Homo sapiens: one gene and its partners. The protein of the gene in region 5 purifies or fractionates together with the protein of the main gene of each other region. This does not show direct contact. Each region holds a gene or a part of one and is shown on either strand. Other genes may lie near its edges.

What was found.
Region 1: the proteins of TMEM248 (region 5) and VPS4A purify together in Homo sapiens (affinity purification with mass spectrometry; one large-scale study listed by BioGRID and IntAct). This does not show direct contact.
Region 2: the proteins of TMEM248 (region 5) and CEP162 purify together in Homo sapiens (affinity purification with mass spectrometry; one large-scale study listed by BioGRID and IntAct). This does not show direct contact.
Region 3: the proteins of TMEM248 (region 5) and ZDHHC9 fractionate together in Homo sapiens (co-fractionation; one large-scale study listed by BioGRID). This does not show direct contact.
Region 4: the proteins of TMEM248 (region 5) and PZP purify together in Homo sapiens (affinity purification with mass spectrometry; one large-scale study listed by BioGRID and IntAct). This does not show direct contact.
Region 6: the proteins of TMEM248 (region 5) and SSH3 purify together in Homo sapiens (affinity purification with mass spectrometry; one large-scale study listed by BioGRID and IntAct). This does not show direct contact.
Region 7: the proteins of TMEM248 (region 5) and UBFD1 purify together in Homo sapiens (affinity purification with mass spectrometry, with the first as the bait; one large-scale study listed by BioGRID). This does not show direct contact.

Annotation. Positions count from the first base shown.
Region 1 is NC_000016.10:69,317,850-69,321,349, reverse strand, and holds part of VPS4A (vacuolar protein sorting-associated protein 4A), read right to left. Parts: intron 2,701-3,500; coding exon 2,639-2,700; intron 2,528-2,638; coding exon 2,408-2,527; intron 1,964-2,407; coding exon 1,807-1,963; intron 1,210-1,806; coding exon 1,061-1,209; intron 663-1,060; coding exon 581-662; intron 300-580; coding exon 80-299; intron 1-79. UniProt on the Homo sapiens protein: Involved in late steps of the endosomal multivesicular bodies (MVB) pathway. Recognizes membrane-associated ESCRT-III assemblies and catalyzes their disassembly, possibly in combination with membrane fission.
Region 2 is NC_000006.12:84,168,644-84,172,143, forward strand, and holds part of CEP162 (centrosomal protein of 162 kDa), read right to left. Parts: intron 3,076-3,500; coding exon 2,963-3,075; intron 791-2,962; coding exon 685-790; intron 1-684. UniProt on the Homo sapiens protein: Required to promote assembly of the transition zone in primary cilia. Acts by specifically recognizing and binding the axonemal microtubule.
Region 3 is NC_000023.11:129,802,788-129,805,886, forward strand, and holds the end of ZDHHC9 (palmitoyltransferase ZDHHC9), read right to left. Parts: 3' UTR 501-3,099; downstream 1-500. UniProt on the Homo sapiens protein: Palmitoyltransferase that catalyzes the addition of palmitate onto various protein substrates, such as ADRB2, GSDMD, HRAS, NRAS and CGAS. The ZDHHC9-GOLGA7 complex is a palmitoyltransferase specific for HRAS and NRAS.
Region 4 is NC_000012.12:9,201,896-9,205,395, reverse strand, and holds part of PZP (pregnancy zone protein precursor), read left to right. Parts: intron 1-1,444; coding exon 1,445-1,628; intron 1,629-2,711; coding exon 2,712-2,871; exon of another isoform or gene 2,872-2,990; coding exon of another isoform or gene 2,991-3,024; coding exon 3,025-3,077; intron 3,078-3,500. UniProt on the Homo sapiens protein: Is able to inhibit all four classes of proteinases by a unique 'trapping' mechanism. This protein has a peptide stretch, called the 'bait region' which contains specific cleavage sites for different proteinases.
Region 5 is NC_000007.14:66,945,225-66,948,724, reverse strand, and holds part of TMEM248 (transmembrane protein 248), read right to left. Parts: coding exon 3,464-3,500; intron 182-3,463; coding exon 31-181; intron 1-30.
Region 6 is NC_000011.10:67,306,530-67,309,810, reverse strand, and holds part of SSH3 (protein phosphatase Slingshot homolog 3), read right to left. Parts: intron 2,974-3,281; coding exon 2,849-2,973; intron 2,770-2,848; coding exon 2,698-2,769; intron 2,441-2,697; coding exon 2,375-2,440; intron 2,263-2,374; coding exon 2,074-2,262; intron 1,966-2,073; coding exon 1,872-1,965; intron 1,638-1,871; coding exon 1,509-1,637; intron 1,400-1,508; coding exon 1,353-1,399; intron 415-1,352; coding exon 268-414; intron 44-267; coding exon 1-43. UniProt on the Homo sapiens protein: Protein phosphatase which may play a role in the regulation of actin filament dynamics. Can dephosphorylate and activate the actin binding/depolymerizing factor cofilin, which subsequently binds to actin filaments and stimulates their disassembly.
Region 7 is NC_000016.10:23,560,727-23,564,226, forward strand, and holds part of UBFD1 (ubiquitin domain-containing protein UBFD1), read left to right. Parts: intron 1-1,479; coding exon 1,480-1,545; intron 1,546-1,898; coding exon 1,899-2,004; intron 2,005-3,312; coding exon of another isoform or gene 3,313-3,383; intron 3,384-3,500. UniProt on the Homo sapiens protein: May play a role as NF-kappa-B regulator.

The DNA of each region.
Region 1 (3,500 bases), on a different chromosome or scaffold from region 5:
ACCAGGAGCTGGGAAAAAAAAAACCGAACATCCCGCTCTTACTATGAGATTTTTCTCAGCAGTGGCCGCGGGCACTCACCTTTTTGAAGTGTGTGGCCGACTGCACCTTCCTCACGGGCTGCATGAGAGAGTCCCGCACGATGATGCTGATGTCCGCGCCCGAGTAGCCTTCCGTCTTCCGGGCCAGCTCGTGGATGTTTGCATCCGTGAGGTTGTGGGGAGTGCTCCCGAGATGCAACCGGAACATCTGGGCGCGGGCAGCTTCCTCCGGCAAGGGGATATAAATTCGTTTTTCAAACCTAGAGAGCCCAGCACACGGCAGGAGTTGACAGCGGATGATGGAATGGTATTCACGGAAGGGGAGGCACGAAGATTTGAGTGAAACGGACGCATTTCATGGGCCAGTGATGCTGGCGGCACATCCTCAACAAGCCAGCCTCACAAAGGGCTCTGCTTGGCAGGCAGACGGGAAGACTCCAGGGAAAAGGGGCCAGGCTGCACCCGGGCTGCCAGCAGCAGGCGGACCGTGACCATGGTGGGAGGAAGCCTCCAGCCCTGGCTTCTCCTGGGGAAGACTCACCTCCTCCTGATGGCCGAATCCAACACCCATGGGATGTTTGTGGCTCCAAGAACCAGAGTCCCATCATTGTTATTCCCCACCCCTGTGGAGAAAGGGAGACAAAGACTCAGACTCTGGACACCTGCACGGGTCAGTTGAAACCTGGGGACAGACCCCGGGGGCTTTGTGTGTCAGCAATTGAAGCCATCCCTGTGCCACCCACCACTGGCAGGGTCCCAAGTGAGATTAAACCACATCTTGGTCTGGCTGTGCCAGGTGAGACCTATGGCACTGCCTGCCATGGGAGGGGTGGAGTGGCCCGTGAGGCAGAGGCCTCAGGCACCTCTTGGGAATTGAAGTCCACCCGTGCCCTGAGGGGCTGGAGCTGGGGAGTGCCTCTCCGAGGCTGAGAACAACCAAATCCAGCCGCAGCTCAGAATAAAGCCCAGGGTTGGCTTCAGGTGCAACAAGAACCAAGGGGGCCCTGGGCCCGGCACACACCCTGCATCTGGACCAAGAACTCCGTTTTGATCCTCCGGGCGGCCTCACTCTCATTTTCATTTCGGGACCCGCAGAGGGAATCCACCTCATCGATGAAGATGATGGAGGGCTTGTGCTGCCTGGCCAGCTCAAACAGGTTCTTGACCAGCCTGTGAAGGTGAGAAAGGGGGTGAGGACAAGACGTTCACGTCCGTGCCCGCCTGGGCTCCCGGCACTTCCCTCTTCTCACCCTTCCCACAGGGAGGCGCAGGCCACGGTCATGCCGGAATTGCGGAAAACGTGGTGGTGAGGAGCCCTCGGGCCACACTGCACCAAGAGGAGGAGCACACCTTGGTGTCAGCCCCAAACGCAGAGCCTCAATCCCAGGAGCCCCATGCGCTAGCTCTGCACTTACAACACGTCAGTCCCCTTCTTCCGAGCCCGTCTCATCACACGCAAAACAGGAGTCAGTGTGGGGAACCATGTCCCCCACACACTGCCCCAACAGGGACCGCAACCCAGACCCCAAAAATATCCTCACTTCCTTTCCCTTCTCTTGTGGAGCACTTCACCTCTCCCAGGTCCCTTCCACCTTCACTTGTCTTTGTTGGGACTGTGTCCCAGCCGATAAGCTAGCGACACACTGCTCTTGGGTACCCTCCCTGAAAACCAAACCACTCCTCTGAGAGGTGACTCCACAGGGTGGGCCGCTGGGTCACTAGCAGTGCCGGGGCTGCTGGCAGAGCATGGCCTGGTGGCCGACTTACTTTTCACTCTCCCCCAGCCACTTGGACATCAGATCTGAGGAGGACACAGAGAAGAAGGTGGAGTTGTTGGCCTCTGTTGCCACGGCTTTGGCCAGGTAGGATTTCCCTGTGCCAGGGGGTCCGAACAGCAGAATCCCCCGCCAGGGGGTGCGCTTGCCTGCAACAGAGAACCACAGAAGTTAGGCCTCCTGACTGGGGAAAGGAATAGGAAAAGCAGAGGGTCTCGAGTCCCATACATACAGTAAAACAGGGCATTCTGTGAAACAACGGACTCTACTGGCAAACAAGTGATGGGAGCTACATTCCCTGCTGTGCCCTGTGCTATGACCCCATGACCTTGCACAGTGCCCCTGCTATGACCCCATGACCTTGCACAGTGACACCGGCTGGCACTGCTTCCTGATCCTGCCCCCACCCTGTGACGTGATCGTCATCTCATAGCTCCAGCCACAGCAGTGTTGTGGACACCAGCGAGCAGCCAGGCCTGGCCCTCTGCAGGCCCCGGGGGCTGAGTCGCCACTGACTCCCGGGTGCCTCGGAGTGCCAGCCCTGCGGAAGCCTGGAATTTTTACATTGGGGTTTGAAATGGCTCAACTCTCACCTGTGAACAAGTGTGGGAATTTGATTGGCAAAATGACAGCTTCTTTGAGGGCCTCCTTGGCCCCCTCCAGCCCGGCCACGTCGTTCCACCGTATGTTGGGCTTCTCCATCACGACGGCACCTGCGAGAGGGAGGCCGGCCCGGGCCCGGGCCCGGCCAAGGGGCATGAGCCAACCCAGCAGCGGACCCACTCTCATCCCCTGCCGCTGCCACAGGGCCGCGAGCCACTTACCCATCAGCTGTTCTTGCAGTTTCTTTTTCTCCGGATTATCCCCTTCACTGTCACTGTCACTGCTGGGAAGGGAGACGGAAAGTCACAAGCTGGCCCTTCAGCCTGGAGCACAGAGGTGCTCCCAGCAAGTCCAGGCTCCGCTGCCTGCACACTGGTTAAGGAACGAAGCCTTCCTGGCTTAACAGTGCCGTGTGACTCAAGCAAGTACTTCAGGGACATTTGGGCCAATGCTCTCAGCAGCTCACTTCAGGACCCCCCCAGCAAACACTCCTATAACCCGCCCTGTTTCTTCGCGGAGCAGATGGGAATCCGGGTCGGCCCTCTCCTGAAGGCCGTAAGGGAAATGTGCTTCAGCTGGACTTAAAGAGCAGCCCAGGCCAGGTGCGGTGACTCACACCTCATACTCTGGGAGGCCACCTGCAGTGGCTCTCACAGCCCAGGCTGGGTGCGGTGGCTCACCCCTGTAATCCCAGCACTCTGGGAGGCTGAGGCGGGAGGATCGCTTGAGCCCAGGAGTTTGAGACCAGCCTGGGAAACAGCGAGATCTTGTCTCTACAAAAAACACAAAATTAGCCAAGCATGGTGGCACGCACCTATGGTGCCAGCTACTTGGGAGGCAGAGGTTGCAGTTAACCAAGATCGCACCACTGCACTCCAGCCTGGGAGACAGTGAAGCCCTGTCTGGGGGAAAAAAAAAAAAAAAAGCCAGTCAAACAATGCAGCTGCCAGAAGCTTCTTTTTTTTTTTTTTTTTTTTTTGAGATGGTGCCCAGGTTGGAGTGCGATGGCACAATCTCCATCTCAGCTCACTGCAATCTCCGCCTCCCGGGTTCAAGTAATTCTCTGAATTCTCTGGCGTCAGC
Region 2 (3,500 bases), on a different chromosome or scaffold from region 5:
TCTTAGGGACAGGGATGATAAAAATCATGCAGTGCATGAATTACTTCTGCTTAAAATAGAACTACCCTGCCTTAAATTCCCAAACTCCTTCTATTGATAAATACTGCTTTAGAAAACTCTAGGCCATATTCTTTATAATACAATTTAATAAACATAAAAAAGTTATGGAACAGCATTGCATTTCAACTTTATGTTAGGTATGTGGAATATAAATACTTGTAAGATACAGTCTCTGCTCTCTAGAAGTGCAGTCTACTTCGGAAGACAGGTAGAAAGCTACTAACTTTTAAAGGTAAATAATTATCTCCAAATTACACTATTTAGGCTGCACGCTTTCAAATAAGGAATTTGTTTGAAATAAGGTATACATGTCCTAAATAAAATCATGCCTCTGATATGGCTCTATGATAAATGCACCTGATGAGATGTGACAAATGCCTGATGAGAGGCTGAATCATAAAGACAATGACATCTAAAAACAGTAATATAATGTTTCCTCTATACTAAGGTCATGTGCATACTATATGCTAATTTAAGATATTTCTCCCTAAGTTTTAAATGGTATGAAATTTATAGATTTTTTAATACATTTCTATGTAATTTTTTAATAAAAATTTGTATAAAAATGGGGATTTTTATAAAACCTTTATTATCCCTAATAGTCAAAATCGTTATGCAACTTACCTGTGCCATCCGTAGTTCTGCTAACAGATCTGTAAAATTCTGATTTCTTGTGGGCTCTGAATCTTCAACTACTTGAGACAGAAAACGACTTTTGTGCATCTGTTCTCTAATTTATTTTGAAAATAAAAAGTTGTTTTTCTTTCTTACCAGGTGCTCCTTTCAGTAGAAAATATTCAATTCTTAAAAATTAAAAACTAACATACATTGAAACTGTATGCATAAATGAAGGTAAAATTTTCATTTAATCTAAAGATTAAAATACTACCATACTAAAAGAGAAATATACTTTAAGGGAAATGCTTATATCTATTCTAAAAGAACTGAAACCTAAGATTATTGGTTTATTTATAATATAAAAATATTAATTCCCAATTCTCAGAGGAAAAAAATTAATCGTCTACAAAGATGCGCTGCATTTTTCTGTGGGGTTGTTAATGCAGTCCTTGTCATATTGTTCTAGAATCTTTTCTGAGAGTCGCCAGTCTCATACATGGAAACTAACAAACAAAACCAAACACAGCCTAATATCTGGACTTTAGATTCAATTTTCCTGTTATTCCAGAGATATTATAGAAGGAGTTTTGGATTCCACATAAGATCATCTAACCCTAATGTACTAAAGAAACCATTTATTTCATTCTGAAAGTTAATTTACAGCTTCAATTTTGGATCCTGGGATAGATCTTCTTTTAGAAGCCAAGTAGTACAAGATAAGATATTTTAAAATAACTTTACTGAAACATCTGGGAAAAAAAGCATAAGTAGGCCAGGCACGGTGGCTCACGCCTGTAATCCCAGCACGTTGGGAGGCCGAGGCAGGTGGATCACGAGGTCAGGAGATAGAGACCATCCTGGCTAACATGGTGAAACTCTGTCTCTACTAAAAAATACAAAAAATTAGCCGGGCATGGTGGCGGGTGCCTGTAGTCCCAGATACTCGGGAGGCTGAGGCAGGAGAATGGCATGAACCTGGGAGGCAGAGCTTGCAGTGAGCCGAGATTACGCCATTGCACTCCAGCCTGGGTGACAGAGCGAGACTCCGTCTCAAAAAAAAAAAAAAAAAAAAAAAAAAAAAGCGTAAGTAAATGCATTCATGCATTACCACTGTGCAGATTATCACACATGGCCTGGGGTTACACTTACCAACTTACAAGGAGAAAGAGGATATATATATATAGTCTGCTACCAAGTGTGTCTTTTTCTATTTTGCCTGACAGATCAGTATGAGCTATTATTAGCAGCCCTGCCTCTTAGGCCCTAGGTTATATAACCAAAAAGGGGGAGAAGTATATAAATAAATTCAGTAAACATTCATGATACTCATGGGTCAGAAACTTCTGAGAACAGTCCTTTCTGAGTGATTAGGTGTTTACATAAAAAGATACACAAATAGTGGTCATTTTCTAAAAGAAGATAGTATGCTAGCTTGTCCATGTTCACGGGCCCAGCTTTTTCACTTAATATGTTAAAGTTGGAAGCAGTAACGTCCAAAAGACCTTATAGTCTGAAATATGATTCCTAAGTAGGTGCTGGTGCTCCATAACCCTGCCATGATAAATGCTGGCTGAAAACAACTTACAGGTGCTCCTTTAAACCGCAGCCCCTGACCCGGCATAAAGGGCAGCCCCTACTCCTTTCCACAGTACACTCCGGCCAGTGACTAAGGCTGCCCCCTTGCCTCAAGCAGGGACCAACTCTGGTACAATTTATTCTCCAGAGCTTCTTGGGAGGAGAATGAAGCCAGTCTCCAGCTGAGACCACTATTTGCCCTCCCCCTACCTCACCGTTCCTGCTTCCCTTGCTCCCTTCTCCTGGGAGTTATCCTTCAGTATATCATCTCCACAAGGACCTCCACCATCTCAGGCTCTGCTTCTATGGAACCTGACCCAAGAAGATCATAAGTGATACTGTATGACCATTCTTTTTTAGTATTATTAATCAAATGGTTCCTTGGGAAATGGTTAATTATCTCATTCTTAATGACTGATCAAGAGGAATACTATATATTCAATTTCCTGAAACTGATGTTTGAATCAGTTATGAACATAAATTCATATGAATTCAAATATGAATATGCTGAAAATACTATCAAGTATGTGCTGGCCATCTAACACCAAAAGAAAAATCCACTGAGTATTAAACATAAAATTGGAAATGTGTACAAATAAAAATAAAATTTTACTATGTCTAAGTAAAAATAAATGTATTATTAACATAATAAGAAAATGCTTGAAATAGTCTAAGTATATTTGATTTTAAGAAGTTCAAAAGGACTTACTTTAAGGAAGCTACCTCACTGAATAAACTTTGGTTTTCCTTAAACATTCGCTCCTCATTTTTCTTGTTTTGTTCTTGGAGATCTTTTACTTGATTATATAATCGTTCATTTTCCTTTTTAAAAACAGAAAACTGCATTTTAGTTAAAAGTCATTAGTACTTATATAACATAATATATGTGCTCATAATAGATTAATCCTTTAAACGGCCTTTTAAGTTTCTTTAGCTTTTGCGTATGTAAAGTCTTTTTTAAACTTTTTATATTATATCTGAAGAAAATTTGGTGTCTAAAAACAGTTCTTTCCATAACATTTAAAATGGCTAATTGAAAAAATAATTTGCAAAATTCCCAAAGCCAAAGGGCCTAAGGTCAGTTTAATGCACTGCATTTCACAGGAGGTAAGTGGGAGAGTGGCTGAAGGAATCACCACATCCTGACTGTGTGGACCCGGGTGGAAAGACCCAGTGAGACCCTTTACATTCTTTTCTGTTTCTGGCTCAAGAGAGGGGAAAAAAAAAATCACTGCTGGAGGAAGATT
Region 3 (3,099 bases), on a different chromosome or scaffold from region 5:
GTGAGCTGGGCTTGCATCCTTTAAAACAAATGATATTCAGAGTTGTAGCCTTTGACACTGTTTCTAAAGCCTATCACCAAGAACAGCAAGAGATTCCTAGAATGTATTCTCCAAACTGACACAAATGCTTTTTGAATTACTGGGAACATGACTCTTCTTTAGTAGCACCAAGGCATGAGAACGAATTATCATTTTTTTAAAACCATTTACTGTGCTCCCTTGGTGATTTCCCCTGGCCTGGCCCCAACTCAGGAGTATAAAATGAACTGAGCTGGAAGAAAAGGACTAACAGGGCCAGGCCATGGGGAGAGGGGAGGGGGCTGGGTTGCTAGGTTACTACTAGAGCCAATCCAAGTGGTCCCAGAGGGGTACCAGATACAGGACAGGTCCTTCTCTCTGCCCCCACTAAGTTGAGGGCCCTCTCAGAGGAAGGGGGTCAAAAGGTGGGGGAGGGAGTCCAATCACTCACACTAGGCACAAGTAAAGAAATGAGGCAGAAGCACAAAGAAACAGACAGCCCTGTATTTCTAAAACCATTCAAGGCTCCTTCATTAATTGGCTTCCCCCCAAAAGAAAGATTTCTTTATTAAGAAATACCAGAGAGTGAAAAACCCCCAACACATACACATTTGTAGGCTCACACAAAAGTGCAGAGATTTACATATTAAATTGCATTTAAATTAGAAAATAGATTTAAAAACAAAATACTTTTTTTCTCCAACAAAGTAAAGAGATTTGGTCAGTAGGAACGGGTGCTTTATGGGTAAAGGCAGGATGGTCAGGACAGGGAGAATGGAATTTAGCTGCTACGGAATCAGAATCCACCTCTAACCCAACCTCACTCCTGGGGTAAAAGCAAAGGAGGAGATGATGATCTCAGCTAGGGCCAGGAAGGCCTCAGAGCTGAATGGACATGAAGAAATGGCTCACCACAGCCAATTTCCACCTGCCCCCAGAGGTTTGGGATCAGTGCCAACCATCCTGGCCTGGGAAAGTAGGGTGCATAGGAAGCTTGAGGAAGAAGGAGGAAGGGGAGAGTTGGAGACAGTGTCAGCCATTGAAAAGACCAAACAATTTAAGGCCCTTTTCCCCTGGGAACATTGATTCTTTAATCTCCCCTCTGATCAGATAGGGACAGTCCCAGCTGGTGCATGGTATGAATGGGACAGATCTTCAGGCCAACATCTTAAACATGGAAGATTTATTAAGGAAAAGAAAGAGGGCAGGGAGTATGAAAAAGCAGAAAATCATTTCACACTAGAGATAAGAGATTTCCACTTTGACCCTTCCCATCAGAAAGAGAAAGCTTCTCTGTCTGACCTAAGGGTCCTCAGGAGAACACTTGAGGTAAGGTGAGGGAGGAGAGAGAGCCATCTGAGCCCAGGAGAGGAGATGGGCTGAGTACTTATTAAAATGGGGTTCATATGAGTGCCAAGTTACCTGGGGAAACCTAACAACTTACAAATTCTCCAGGTTTGGCTTTATAACTTCAAGAAAAAAAACTGAGAGAACCAGAAAAAGAAGCAGACAGGAGAGGGATCTGAGTCAGTCTCTCCCCATCTCTCTTCCAATCTCTCTCTCTCTCTCTCTCTCAAGAATGCTCAACTTAAATCCTGTTAAAAGGAAAAAGGAAGACATGGAAAAAGGTCTGGGAGCAGCCAAATTTCATTAATTCCAATTAACTGGGAAGTATGAGATGGGAATTGATAGGGAGTCTTGATTATACACCACCTAGAAAGAAATATATACCATCACTTGTAAAAGACCACTGATCAAATATTTCCAAGGGGGGGCCCTGATGAGCCTGCGTTAATAACTAAGACTTATTAGCAATTAACGGCATCCATCTGCTTCAAAACAATATCCTAATATAGAGCTTGTTCTCTTAAGTAAATATAATCCCTCTACCTTCCTGATCCTGTTCACACTATATCTCCTTGAAAGTCCTTTCTTCATAGTCCAGAATAAGAAAACCTTCAGCCCAGAATGTAGTATAGATCAATGGAGAGTTTGGAACTACCTCTCCAACCCAAGGGTGCCCTGGTTAATGGAAGTTTGGGGAGTAACAAGCAACCCCTTCCAACCCCCACCCCCACCCTACACACAAACATATTCTTGAAATGGAAGGGGGAAGGAGGAGGCAGGAAGTTTGCATTAGACACAGTTTAATCGCCTTCAAATAGATGAAAAGTTCTGGTTTACACTCCCCCACCGCATAAGTCATCCAGACAGGACCCTGGCTTAGAAAGAGGAAAACACAGGTGCTCTAGGAAATATAGCCACATATAATACATAAATCTTCTTCCCTGAAATAGAGCAGGTCCTGAGCAGAGCTGACTGGGGGCCACAGCCCACCCCCAGGGTGAAGTGGCTCTGGGACTCTGCCGGTGGAAGTGCTGGAAGAGCGGGGCTTGGAGGAAGCCCCCAGTGTGGTTACCATAGCCAGAGGTGGGCCGAGGCCTTAGGGTGAGTTACCCGAGAGGGCAGCAGTGCTGGGCTTTCCCTCACTCAGCCGAGGCTTAATGGAAGAACTGGTTAGCATTTTTTTTTTTTTGAGGGTACATCGGGGGAGAGGAGAGGAGAGGAGAGCCTCTCTGTGCCTTGGTTTCCCATTTGTGCATTCAGGGCCTCTGCAGGCCTCACACAGGGAGTCTGAGGGGATAGTGTTTAAGTGAGCACTCAGGCTTCCTCTGAGGAAAAGAAATGACCAAAGTGCAGACTTTTATTACTGCCATTCCTGCTCCTAATGGGAGCAGGAGTCAAAAGGAAAAACAAATTAAAAGGGGCTAATGAGAAAGGAGGAGAGATGAGACAGAGAGTGTGAAGGGCTATGCCGCTGGCATCTCATAAATTCTTATTGAGAATGGCACAGGTATTAAAAAAGTTTCTGGGTAGTCTACGAGAAATGTCAATTATTATCTCTACTACAACTACTTACATATATCTAATGGGAAAAGAGTGGGGCTTAGGTGTCAGAGTGGATGGGAGACAAAGGAGAAGCTACACTAATAAATACAACAAGTGGAAGGTACCTGTCCCATTCCTAAAAGGATTTGTGGGCAATGCTGGCACTTGGTGGCCAGGAGAATCTTCTGACCC
Region 4 (3,500 bases), on a different chromosome or scaffold from region 5:
TGGCAGATGCTCAAAAACAGCAACAACAAAAACACATTCTCTTTCAGCCCATGGGATTTCAGAGTGTGGAGAGATTATATTGAATTGGAGGCTTCTGGAAAGTGACAGGAAAATATGGAGTGGGGGGCATTAGAGACAAAGGACACTCATCAATAAAGCTAAGGCCAGAATGTGAGGCTTACACAAAAAATTGCCTGTGCCTCTGAAAAACTGAAAACTTTCAACAATTTAAATAAAAAAGAAAAGACTTTTCAAAATAATATGACTTTTAGTACTCATATAAACTTTGTTTTGTTTTTTTTTGAAACAGGGTCTCACTCTGTCACTCTGAAAGCACTGGTGCAATCATAGCTCACTGTAGCCTCAACCTCGTGGGCTTAAGTGATCCTTCTTGCCTCAGCCTCCTGAGTAACTGCTACTACAGCCATGTGCCACCTGGCTAAATTTTTTATTTTAATTTTTGTAGAGATGGGGGACCTCACAATGTTGTGCAGGCTGTTCTCAAACTCCTGGCCTCAAGTGACTCTCCTGCCTCAGCCTCCCAAAGTGCCGGGAACTAGGTATAAGCCACTTCTCCCAGCCTGAACCTGTTTGTTTTTTTTTATTGAAAAGATAACCTATCCACCCATGTGATTCGAAACAAACATGTTTATAAACATGGACATACTAATATTAAATTATTAATGTTAATTGCCTCAAGAAATTGAGCATAAAGGGAAATGATAATAAAATACAGTGTGTGTTTGTGTAGTGTGTGTGTAGCAGGGAGTTGTGCATGTAAATAATTGACAAAATTTTCAAACTCGTTGATAAAATATTGACTTTGACTGAGCTGTATCTGAGGAGCCTAAGAGAAACAGCAAATACTTTTTTTCAGTGTTGCTGATATTAAGAAAATGATTTTGCAATATAGACATGTGTTATTTTGTGTAATGATATATGCTTACTGAAGTTCTTTCAGTTGAATTTCTGTAAATCTAGTCACGGTGTTCATTCCAAAGTGATGTTTATCTAGACAGATTTTAATGTAAGTCCTTTTTACAATGAATAATCACTCCCAATTTTTTATATATGTGTGTGTGTTTGTGTGCGTGCACTTTTATGGATATATATTCAAGAATTCAGATTCTTTTTAAAGGTCAAAGTTAAAGTTTAAAGAGCTCAGACTGCTCTTTACAGCAAGGAATGCCTGTGAAATTGTAACATCTTGGAAAGCAATCTCCAGTGTTGTATGGCTCCAGATTGTGTGGCTGAGGCATGGCTGATGAGTAAAAGATAAAATTTTTGTGCTGATCTGTGACAGAACCTCCATTGACTTAGTCCATTGACTTTTAGAATAAAACTGATTGCACCAATTAATACATATTGTTATGAAAACACATTTATGGATGAAAACGCTTACTATCATCAGTTTTTCTCTAATTTAGACTTCTTCCTTTCCCAGGCAGTATATGGTGCTGGTCCCCTCCCTGCTCCACACTGAGGCCCCTAAGAAGGGCTGTGTCCTTCTGAGCCACCTGAATGAGACAGTGACTGTAAGTGCTTCCTTGGAGTCTGGCAGGGAAAACAGGAGCCTCTTCACTGACCTGGTGGCGGAGAAGGACTTATTCCACTGTGTCTCCTTCACTGTGAGTGCTACGGTGCCAGCTGGCTATCCCTGCTTGATACATTTTATTGAGCTCTATAGGTCATGGTGATGGAGCTCTGGTGTGCGATCCCAAGGTATGACTTTAAGAATGTAGTTAGGACTTCAGGGGCCAGGTGCGGTGGCTCACGCCTGTAATCCCAGCACTTTGGGAAGCCAAGGCGGGCAGATCACGAGGTCAGGAGATCGAGACCATCCTGGCTAACAAGATGAAACCCCGTCTCTACCAAAAATACAAAAAATTAGCCGGGCGTAGTGGCAGGCGCCCGTAGTCCCAGCTACCTGGGAGGCTGAGGCAGGAGAATGGCGTGAACCCGGGAGGCGAAGTTTGCAGTGAGCCGAGATCGCCCCACTGCACTCCAGCCTGGGCGACAGAGCGAGACTCCGTCTCAAAAAAAAAAAAAAAAAAAAAAGGAATGTAGTTAGGACTTCAGAAAGGACTAAAAATAGTGAGTTTTCAACTATTAAGGAACAAAGCATTTTTTACCAGAGTAAGGAAGAAATACTCTTCTAAATTTCATTCCTAAATAATAATCCTATTGCCCACAAAAATTTCATGACTTAGAGGAGTTTTCTAGTTTTGATTGTAACTGTCTCTTTAAGGATCGGGCTGGACATTTCCTAGAAATAGATCATATGAAAATTTCATGATAAAAACTTTGCATGCAACATAATTTTTTGCACATGCAGGATACCCTAAGCAAACACCTAGTACCTCTTTAAAGTTGCCTAACTTGGGAAACTCAGCTCCTATGCTCTCCCATATTTTTTCAGAGATGTTTCTCTCCATTGCTTCAGAATATACATACTCAGTTAAAAGGCATCTAATTTAATAACTAGAGCTCTAGGTGAACTCCATGGAGATCTGGGTTCTATTGATGGCCACTCTTACTGATACCATTCCTCCATCTCACATTAATATCGTCACTCTTATGTCTGAAGAAATAGTCACACCTTCCTTCTCCTTGGTGAAGCTGAAGGAGAGATAGGAAATAGCAATGACTGAAGAATGCAGAGGGAGAAGACTGCACAGTTCCTCAGTAGTAAAAAATCCTTTGCTTTTTAGCTCCCAAGGATCTCAGCCTCTTCAGAGGTGGCATTCCTTAGCATCCAGATAAAGGGGCCTACGCAAGATTTCAGGAAGAGGAACACAGTTCTGGTACTGAACACCCAAAGTCTGGTCTTTGTCCAGACAGACAAACCCATGTATAAACCAGGACAGACAGGTAAGTAGGGAAATTCCACTGTTTGGGGCAACACTGAGAAGGGCCACCTGAACAGCCAAAGTCTCCATTATCCTAGCCCCGTAGCCTCCTGTCTTATTACCCAAATTACCTGCTTTATCATGTCTGAATCTTATCGGAGAACTACTTTTCCAGTAAGATTCCGTGTTGTCTCCGTGGATGAAAATTTTCGCCCTCGAAATGAACTGGTAAGCATCCACTATCTGTGGTTTGGGTTGTGGGTAGAGTGGGAATACTCACCCAGAGTGAGGTAGAAAGGTACAAGAAAAGCGAGAGGATGAAAGACACTTGTTTTTGAACTTGGCTCCAGCCTCAGCACAGATTTGCAGTCTTATACAAAACAAAAATTGAGGGACAAGAGATGAGGAAGTTCTTTCTCTTATAACAGTATTTAATCAGTCTGGCAATAGCTGCATTTGTTACTCTGAACACACTGCATTAAGAATATTAAAGAAGCATAGAAAAAAGGCACTATTCCTATTCATACTTTCAAGGAATTTATGATTAAAAAAGCAACACAGAATTATGCTTTTATGAATATATAGGTATATACAATAGACCATATTATAATTTTATTATATATTCGATACATATAGTATAGAAATATATTA
Region 5 (3,500 bases):
GCACGTTCATCAGGTGCCGGGTACACTTACACAGTGACGGGGAACACCCCAGGGCTGGCCGTGAGGGTCATGCAGGCTGTGAATACCACCTGCTCACAGTGACCGTGGAGGGCGCAGTCATCTGAGCTCCACGCTGTAGGCAGGGTGAAGGTGATGTTTATCTCCTCGTGGGCTTCCCTGCCTATGAAAGAGAAATCATTTTTTTATAAAGTCAAGAACCACGTACTTGTCATTCTCTGGGATACAAATAAATCCTGAAATCAAACCCACACAGGAATCATCTATCAGCCCAGGCACCTGCCTTTGTGGGATCTGAGGAAGAAGAGCAGTCCTGACCCTGACCATGAGTCCTACTCAACTCAGAGCCACGAAGCAGCGAAGGAAGTGGCCACTTTCCAGTACATGGCCTGGAGATGCCAAACCAGACCTCGGGCAGATCAGAGATGAAAAGCTCGGGCTGGGTGAATTATCCCCAGCATTTCTGCACAGCTGTCTAGCCATTTTCAAACATCTTTTATATGTATTATTTCACTTAAAATTTACTACTCTCCCATGAACATGACTGAAGAAGTGCAGCTGTTCCCCTTTTACATATGAACAAACAGAGGTCAGAGGGTTTCAGAGTTAAGAAAGGCAAGTGATGAAGCTTAAACTAAAACCAACGTATTGCCAGGCACAGTGGTTCACATCTGTAGTCCCAGCACTTTGACTTTAGAAGGCTGAGGCAGGAGGATTGCTTGAGGCCGGGAATTCACGACCAGCCTGAACATGACAGCAAGATTCTGTCTCTACAAAAAAGTTTTAAAAATCAGCCAGGTGTACTGGTGCACACCTGTGGTCCCAGGTACTAGGGAGGATCACTTGAGCCCAGGAGTTTGAGGCTGCAGTGAGCTATGATCACACCACTGCACTCTAGCCTGGCGACAGATCAAGACCCAGTCTCAAAATTAAAATAAAATTTTAAATAAAAATTAAATTAAAATAAAAAATTAAAATATTAAAATAAAATTAAAATTAAAAAATAGCCAAGCGTGGTGGCTCATGCCTGTAATCCCAGCACTTTGGGAGGCTGAGGCGGGCGGATCATTTGAAGTCAGAAGTTCAAGACCAGCCTGGCCAACATGGTAAAATCCTGTCTCCACTAAAAATACAAAATTAGCTGGGCATGGTGTCACGAACCTATAATCCCAGCTACGCGGGAGTCTGAGGCAGAACAGTCGCTTGAACCCGGGAGACAGAGGTTGCAGTGAGCCAAGATTGTGCCACTGCACTCCAACCTGGGCGACAGAGTGAGACTCCATCTCAAAATAACAACAAAAAATCCCGAAGGTGTCCTTATGCCATGCCATAAGCAACAGGTCCACTTGCTACATGGAAAACCCAGAAGTCACCCATACCTTGATTATTATGGGAATATTCTCACCTCTAACAGCCAATAGGAGGCTGGTGGGCACTTAAATTCCTTGAAGGACTTTTTATTTGTTTCTTGTTTTTTTTTTTTTTTTTTTTTGAGACAGGGTCTCACTCTATTGCCCAGGCTGGAGTACAGTGGTACAATCTTAGCTCACTGTAGCCTCGACCTCCCAGGTTCAAGCAATCCTCCCACCTCAGCCTCACAAGTAGCTGGGACTACAGGTGCACGCCACAACACCTGGTTAATTTTTTTAATTTTTTCATAAAGACAGGTGTTTGCTATGTGCCCAGGCTGGGCTTCAACACCTGAGCTCAAGCAATCTTCCTGCCTCAGCCTCTCAATGTGCTGGGATTACAGGCATGAGCCACTGCATCTAGCCTAAGCAATTTTTAAAAAGCCTTTTGGTAACCAAAGAACAAAAGGTTATTCTTCCAAGGCCCAGGTGTCCCATATGAAGCCTTTCCTGATTATTCCAGCTTCCACTGCCTTCTAGCCCTTCTCCTGCAACACTTACAGTCTGTCATGGGTTTAGTACTGGTCAAAGGGCAGTGCTCCACATTTTATAAGTATGTATTTTTTCATATCCCTTATCAAGCACTTACGTAGCATTTCCTTTGTGGCAGGAACTATTGTAAGTGCTTGATAAACATTAACTCACGTTTATCTTTGTCTCTTCCATAACCCCAAAATTCCAAAAGGAAGAGACCAAATGTTAGGCCTTTTTTTTTTTTGAGGTGAAGTCTCACTCTGTTGCCTAGACTGGAGTGCAGTGGCATGATCTTGGCTCACTGCAGCCTCCGCCTCCAGGGTTCAAGTGATTCTCCCACCTCAGCCTCCAGAGTGGCTGGGATCACGGGCGCCTGCCACCACGCCTGGCTAATTTTTTTGCATTTTTAGTAGAGATGGGGTTTCACCATGTTGGCCAGACTGGTCTTGAACTCCTGACCTCAAGTGATCCACCCACCTCGGCCTCCCAAAGTGCTGGGATTACAGGCGTGAGCCACTGCGCACGGGCCCATCTTAGGCATTGTCTTTTCTTTTCTTTTTTTGAGATGGAGTCTCGCTCTGTCGCCCAGGCTGGAGTGCAGTGGTGCAATCTCGGCTCACCGCAACCTCCACGTCTTGGGTTCAAACAATTCTCCTGCCTCAGCCTCCTGAGTAGCTGGGACTACAAGTGCGCACCACCATGCCTGCATGCCCAGCTGACTTCTTTTTTTTTTTTTTTGGAGAGAGAGTCTCCCTCTGTCGCCCAGGCTGGAGCACAGTGGCATGAATCTCAGCTCACTGCAACCTCTGCCTCCTGGGTTCAAGCTATTCTCCTGCCTCAGCCACCCGAGTAGCTGGGACTACAGGTGCCTGCCACCACGCCCGGCTAATTTTTGTATTTTTAGTAGAGACGGGGTTTTGCCATATTGGCCAGGCTGGTCTCAAACTCTTGACCTTGTGATCTGCCCACCTTGGCCTCCCAAAGTGCTCGGATTACAGGCGTGAGCCACCGCGCCCGGCCAATTTTTTGTATTTTAGTAGTGATGGGGTTTCACCATGTTGCCCACGCTGGTCTCAAACTCCCGAGCTCAGGCAATCCACCCACCTCGGCCTCCCAAAGTGCTGGGATTACATGCATGAGCTACTGCACCCAGCCATCTTAGTCATTTTCTAGTTCTTCCCAGCAGCTTAGCACAGTGCCAGACTAACAATGGCCATTAAAAAATATGTAAACTAATAGCAATAGAAGATGTGTAGTAAGTAATGAAAACTCCAACAGGACAAGCCTGAATTAAAATTACATGTTTGTAAATATTAGACAGGCCTTAACAGTTTTCTCACAGTTTCTCATTCCTACAGGCTTTTGAGAAACTACTTCTAGCCAGGTACTTTACCATGTAACGATGGAACAGAAATGGTTCATGTAGTTCAAACTCAACAAAAAAAAGACACGCGCAAGACTACAATCTAGTACAATATAGTCAGTAAAAACATACACGGTGCATCCTCTTTTTGTAACAGTGGTTGCCTAAGGAGCCTGAGTGGAGAGTGGCTACTGCATACCTGAAAGTCCAATCTGATGCCCTAAGATGGTTGAGTA
Region 6 (3,281 bases), on a different chromosome or scaffold from region 5:
GACGCCCATCTTGCAGTGGACCAGCACGTGGGTGCCCTGTGCTCTGTGGAAGCAGGCCAGGTTCAGCACCCTCCCCTCACCATGAAGGATCCCGCCTCCTGCAGGGGAGGGCAGGTGAAGGGCTCACAACCAACTGAGAGTAGAGAAGGAGGGAAGGACACTGAGGGCTGGAAGGAATGGCACAGCTGATGGCAGAGTGGGCAGGAGGAGGGCACCGGAGGCCGCTTGAAGCCACAGTGGGGCAGGCAGCAAAGCCAGGAGACCGACCTTGCAGCCTCAATGAAGCGGTGCGTCTCCTTCCAGTGCGGCAGCAGCTGGGCCGACTCCTCATCCCAGAGGCGCACATTGTGGTAGGTGAAGCGCTCAGGGTAGAAGTTGTCAATCTCCCGGGCCATGTTCAAGATGTGGGTGACCCTGTCCCAGAGGGCCCAAGGCCAGGCTGATGTGGGCAGAGGTACCAGGCCCACTGGCAATCGGACCTGGCAGCCCCTGGGCCTCGCTTTAGCTCTGAGTTTCAAGTCAGATGGAGGCAGCAGTGACAGTGGGAGGAGAAGTGACCCAGCTGTCACCTGGCTGCGACCTTAGACCAATCATCTTGCCCTGCTGGGCTTGTTTCCCCATCTGGTCCAGACAGCTGGGCCAACTGCAACTCCAGCCCTTCAGTTATTCTCAGAAATGAGTTAGAGAACAGCTTTTGAGCTAAGCTGAGAGTGGGTGGGTCTGCAGCAGTGGGTGGCAGGGGCTACAGCAGGTCCCAGAAGCCCATGGTGGGCAGATGACAGGTACCTGTCAGAGCAGGCAGCCAGGTCCCCACGGGGAGAAGGGCAGTTCCTTCTTCCCTGAGACAGGGCAAGGTGGAGAAAAGGCTTTTTCTCTCTTTCTTTTTTCTTATTTTTTAGAGACAGGGTCTCTCTCTGTTGCCCAGGCTGGAGTGCAGTGGCGTGATCACGGCTCACTGCGGCCTCAATCTCCAGGGCTCAAGCGATCCTCCTGCCTCAGCCTCCCAAGTAGCTGGGCCCACAGGCGCATTCAAGAGGAGCCTTTTTCTGCTTGTCCAAGGCAGTTACAGCAGTATGCGCTGCTGCTTCTCGTCTTGGCGTGGCTGAGGCCCTTTGTTTCTGTCCTTGTTTCACAGTGTGGATGGGGGAGGAGAGTGGGCGGGGGCTGGCCAGCAGGTCTCCTGTCCCCACCTGGGAGCCCACACCAGGGCAACAGCCCCAGGACAGAGTTAGAAGCAGAGCTAGCAGCTGCTGAGGGTGGTCCAGGGGTTTTTGAAGCTGGCTACCACCCAATGCGGGGAGGCCAGGAGAAGGGAAGATGGGGTGGGTGGCCCGAGGGGCTCATAGCCCTACCTGTTCCTCTGCAGCTCCTCCAGGTTTGCTGCGTTCCACTCTGAGCCCTGGGAGAGAGGGAACAGCACATTTCTCCTCTCCTCCAGCCTCTGCTCCTGGCCTGCCGCCCTCACAGCTGCCAGCGGTCCCCATGGCCCAGGCCTGGCTGAAGCTCACCAGGTAGAGGTGGGGGAAGATGCGGGAGGCTCGGTCCCGCTGTGCCACCAGCAGCAGCATCTGGTTGTCGATGAAGTCACGGTACTGCTGGAGGGGGAGCCCCAGGCGCAGCTCCAGAGCCTGGCGGATCTGCAGGCAGAGCCCAGGGCAAGAGAGGCTGGGGCTCTCCTAGTGCCCAACCTGCCACCTTCCCTCTGGGACCTCTGAGGACAGCACCCTATCCCATCTAGATGGATTAGGGCCAAGGCCAAGGCATCCAGGAATGGCTCAGGACTGGAGACAGGCAAGGTGGGGAGGGCTCCCAGGAAAGGCAAGCTTGCAGCCCCTGCTAGAGGGGACTCAGTCCCCGGGCCCCCTGCCCACCTCTTTGGAAGTGACACTCTCCAGGTCACTGACATCCAACACTTTCCACAGCTCAGCACGGATCGCCTGCTCCATCTGCTCCTGTTCTGAGGACCTGGGAGCAGAGCCCCTCAGTCAAGGGGCCCTTTCCCCTCTCCACCATGCCCCCCACTGCATTATCCTGCCTTCCCCTCCACCCAGTCCCTCCCCTCCACACACTGACCCGCCAGGCTCGGCGCTGGGAGGCCGCAGAGACTCCAGGTCGGCCATAGCCGTCCACTCATTGAGGCAGCTCTGTTCGGAGTTCAGTCTCTCCTGGTAGTGGCTGGCCCAGGTGAGGGCACTGCCACCCGGTACAAGGCCGCTGCCTAGAGCTGCCTCACATGCTTGGTGCAATACCTGGAGTGTGGCCCTGAGACAGGAGGAGAGGCTGGGTCACACTGTTCCCTTGCTGCCCTTCCCCAGGCCCTGCAGCCTCCTTCGAAGGAGAGGCTGGCCTGAGTCCAGGCAGTCTCTGTCCTTACCACATGGTCTGGATGGAGATGGGCTTGAAGATCCGGCTTTGCCCACCAGACGTCACGCTGAAGCCCCTGCAGGAGACCAGGCACAGGTGAGGCCAGACTCCAGGCTCTGCGACAGAGAACCCATCCTTTTGCTGGATACGGGAAGCCGAGACCCAGGAGTCAGGTGCCTTGCTCAGGATCACGGTGAATCTGACGTGGAGCTGGGAGCAGGCCCCAGAGTCCCAGCCTAAAGTTCTACTGTACCCTGGTGCCCAGGCCCCGTCACATCCGTCACACTCAGTTATTCCACCCTCCAGCCCCCACCTCCAGTTGCCATTGCTTACCCGTCTCCATCTAAGTACACCTGGGTGTCACTCCAGAGGGGCAAGACCAGGCCCAGGGTGCAGCTGGGGGAGCTGGCAGGGGACAGAGGGAAAGCCATTGTCCCCCCTGTCCCTCACCTCTTTGCCCCTCCTTTCCTCTCCCTGCTCGAACCTGCTGTCAGGGAAATCCACGCCCAGGAGGACCGTCTCATCCTGGCTCAGACCTTCTCCTTCTCGTGTAGAAACTACCAGCAGGTAGCGGAGCCGGGGAGGCCGGGGTGCCTCCAGCTGGGCTGCCTGGGGGGAGATGAGGAACCCAGGGTCACAGTGGCCCCAAGGACCCTGCTCCCCACCTAGACACCCCAGGCCCAGAACAGTGCTGACCCTGCTCCTTCCTCTCCCATCCCCCCTCTTCCCAGATGTAAAATCAGTGGGTAAAGAGGGACTGTGTGGAAAAAAGCGGGGAATGGGACTGACATAGGTTGCACATTTTTTGTTTCTGCTGAGGAAGGAGGTTGTTTTTGTTTTTGTTTTGAGATAGGGTCTCACTCTGTCGCCCAGGCTGGAGTACAGTGGCACCATCACAGCTCACTGTAGCCCCGAAC
Region 7 (3,500 bases), on a different chromosome or scaffold from region 5:
TATCTTTATAAAAATTCCAAAACCCTGAAAGTTCAAAACTCTAGGGTTTCAGATAAGGGGTTATAAACCTATATTAATTATCTAAAAGGTGTTGATTTGGAGACTTCACCCCCACATATGGGGTCTCAGTGTCTTGAAACCGATTGAGTTTCTTCTCATATTCCTGTTTTTCTTTGCCACATGTATGAAATAGTGAAATGTGAGCACGTCAGATAGGAGTGGTCGCAATGGTCACACCCTTGGAGCATAACATGCCTCCTAAATACAGGTTTTTAGTTACTAATGGTAGCTTAACAGGCTTAGAACTGTTCTCCACAGTACAGGAAATCTTGTTCAAAAGGTACTTGAAAGGTGTGACTCGAATTGTACTTCCAGCCCATGCTGCTGTGTTTCATTGAGGCCAATTATGATGCATCACATGACCTAATGAGAGGGATATAGTCCCTTGCCTTTTTACCAGCTTATTAAGGGGTCTGGGGGTGATGTCTGGAGTGACTTTTTGCTAGCAGTCTGGCAGTGCTGAGTTTATTCCTCCCAGAGGGATTCCACCATGCCAGTGAGGATTTGGGCTGGCTTGTGGCTGCCTAGTGCTTACATTTGATTAAATTGTTACCTTCTATCCATTCATTGTCCCCTAGTTCCAGCCTTCCAAGCAGTGGCTATGCCTATAAGGCCACAGATGGAGAAGAAAGAAGACTCAGGCATTTGGGCCAGGCAGGAGAACTGTTTAAGGGGCCCTGAACTTAGAATCCTTGAAGAGCTGCCTCAGAGTTCTTGGGGCAGGTGGTAGGGGTGGAGTTTAGAGGCTTCTTAATGTCAGGTTATAGAGTAATAAGCATTTCTTTCTGAAAGGTGGCTCTTCCAGGTTCCTGTTTAGCTGGAGTTAAGGGTAGGGCAGTGGGGAAAACTTCGGCGATGGGCTGGGTCTCCATTTGTTGAAGAACTGCTCCTCCTAGGCAGTTAGACGGATTACCAGCATCTTATAGTGTTCTCTGGAAGTTTAAGTTGAAAAAGGTGGGTGCCATTTTTTGTCTGCTAGGAGAGCAACACCCTTTGTCGCCCTCTTTAGTTTGATGGTTTAATCATTTCAGTGGTGATTTTTTTTTTTTTTTTTGAGGGGAGGAGGGCAATCTGGAAATCCCGTTTGCTGTAGAACTTTGATATCTAATATGGTAGCTATCCACATGTGGCTGGTTAAAATGAAATTAAGAATTCAGTTCCTCAGTCATAGTAGCTGCATTTCAAGTGTGTAATAGTCACAGCAGTAGGTAGTGGCTAGCACAGGTACGAACATATTCGCCCTCCCAGAAAGTTCTGCTGGACAGCACTGTGCTATAGTTTCAAAGGATCCATAGTCTGTCGTCATTAAAAGCTTTTGAGCCAAAACACTAAGGCTTTCTTCATCCTCTCTTTCAAGGGAATAGTAACACGACGAAATGTAGTCAGCTGTTTCATTTCATTCTCTCTTCTGACTTATAGCAACACAGGAAAGTGTTGGATAAAGGAAAACCTGAAGATGTGATGCCATCTGTTAAGGGGGCCCAGGTAAGGCGGATTTCTTTGTGAGCATTCTGAAAATGAGGCAGCCCCACCGTCTGACTTGAGGTTCCTCCAATCCTGTCCCTTCTCTTTTTTCCCTGTTTTTTTTTTTTTGAGACAGAGTCTTGCTCTGTCACCCAGGCTGGGGTGTGCCACCACACCTGGCTAATTTTTGTATTTTTAGTAGAGACGGGGTTTTACCATGTTGCCCAGGCTAGTCTCCAACTCCTGACCTCAGGTGATCTGACCGCTTTGGCCTCCCAGTGTGCTGGGATTACAGGCGTGAGCCACCGCGCTTGGCCCCCTTCTCTTTTTTTCTGACTGTCCCTCCATCTCTTACCATTCTCTCGTGCCTTCAGGAGCGCCTGCCAACGGTACCGCTGTCCGGCATGTACAATAAATCTGGAGGAAAAGTGAGACTCACCTTTAAACTAGAACAAGACCAGCTGTGGATTGGCACTAAAGGTATGTTCTTCCTCGCCTCCTTGCTGGCCCACTGCCTGCCTCTGGCACCCAGCAGCACTCACATTTTAGAGTGCGATTTCACCCCTCCTTCTGAAACCTCTCTCTCCACTGTGCTTTGCTTGCTTCTGGCTTTTAAATTTGCTTTTAGATGCTCGCCTTTTGTTTGGACCGTTTTCCCTCATTGTTTTCAGTCTGATCTTAGGGCTGATCCACCAAACAGTGGCTCTTCAGTTGCACACAGATTTGGGGGTCCCAAACACGTGGCCCAAGGGCCAAATCTGGTCCACAGAAAAATGTTTTGTGGGATGACACACAATCTGTAAAAATTGGGAGATTTCACTAATCTGATTTTTTTTTTTTTTTTGGCTTCTCTTGAAAACTCAAATGATCTGGCCCTTTGGGGCCTGCATTCTCACATGGCATCGATCCACTAGAGCCGAGTGGTGGTTTCCAGTGGGCCATACTACAGTCTTCATGGTCCCATTTATCTTAGAAGTAGCCAGCTTTGTTCATTTGTCACCTGCCTGGCCCCTGTAGGTCAGAGTTTGACCCTATAGTAGGTGAAGTTTTCCTAACCGCTGCCGAGGAATCTGCCTCTCCCTCCCCGCCTGGTTGCCCTCTGCCTGCCCCACCCCCGCCTGTGCACGGTGTCTGGATCAGCCTTGCTGTTTGCTGGGAAGTGTCTCTGACTGTCCTCCCTCTCCCTTCCCCCAGATGGTTACAAAGTCTTGTTAGTTACACTGCAGAACTGTCTGTCCCTTTCTTTGCCACACTGTTGTGCCAGTTAAAGTTCCCAAGCATCTTTAAACTTGGTCTGTTCAAAGCGAGTTACCCTGTTTCACTGCCCCATCTGTGTTTTCTTCTGTCCTGTCCATCTTACCTACTGCTTTTTATCCTGGGTACCCGTGCTCAAGGACCTTTGGCTGTTTAAGGACACATTCAAATGCCTAACCATAGCGTTCAGTGTTCTCAACACTGGGCCTTAGTTTAAATTTTGGTTCCAGCTTCTGGCCCGTTTGCCCTGTGGTCCCCTGTGTATTTTAGCCGCATCTCTCTGTGAAGCTCCCAGTGTGCTTTGCACAGCTCCTTGTCTTTGCTCATGCTGTGCCCTTACCTGGAATGCCTTTTTCCCATTCCTTGTTATTAATAAAATCTTCCAAGGCCCTACTTAAATGTCCTCTCTGAATGAAGCCTTCCTTGATTCTCCCCCCACCCTCCAAATGACTTGCTGCCGCTTCTGTTCATAGAGCGCTTCGTTTATATCCCCAGAGCACTCATTACTCTCTGACTTGTCTGTCCCCCTGTTAGATTCCTGGAGGGAACCGAACATGCCTAAATCACCTGTTTCTGACCAGCACTGTAGGTATTCAGTGTTCGAGGTAAATGCTAAAGAGAAGTATAGGGGGTCCCATCATCTGACGTTCACTGGTTTCAGGGACAGACCATTTAGTGAGACTCCACTTAAAATGGGACCAAGTTTTATGGAGAATAATTGG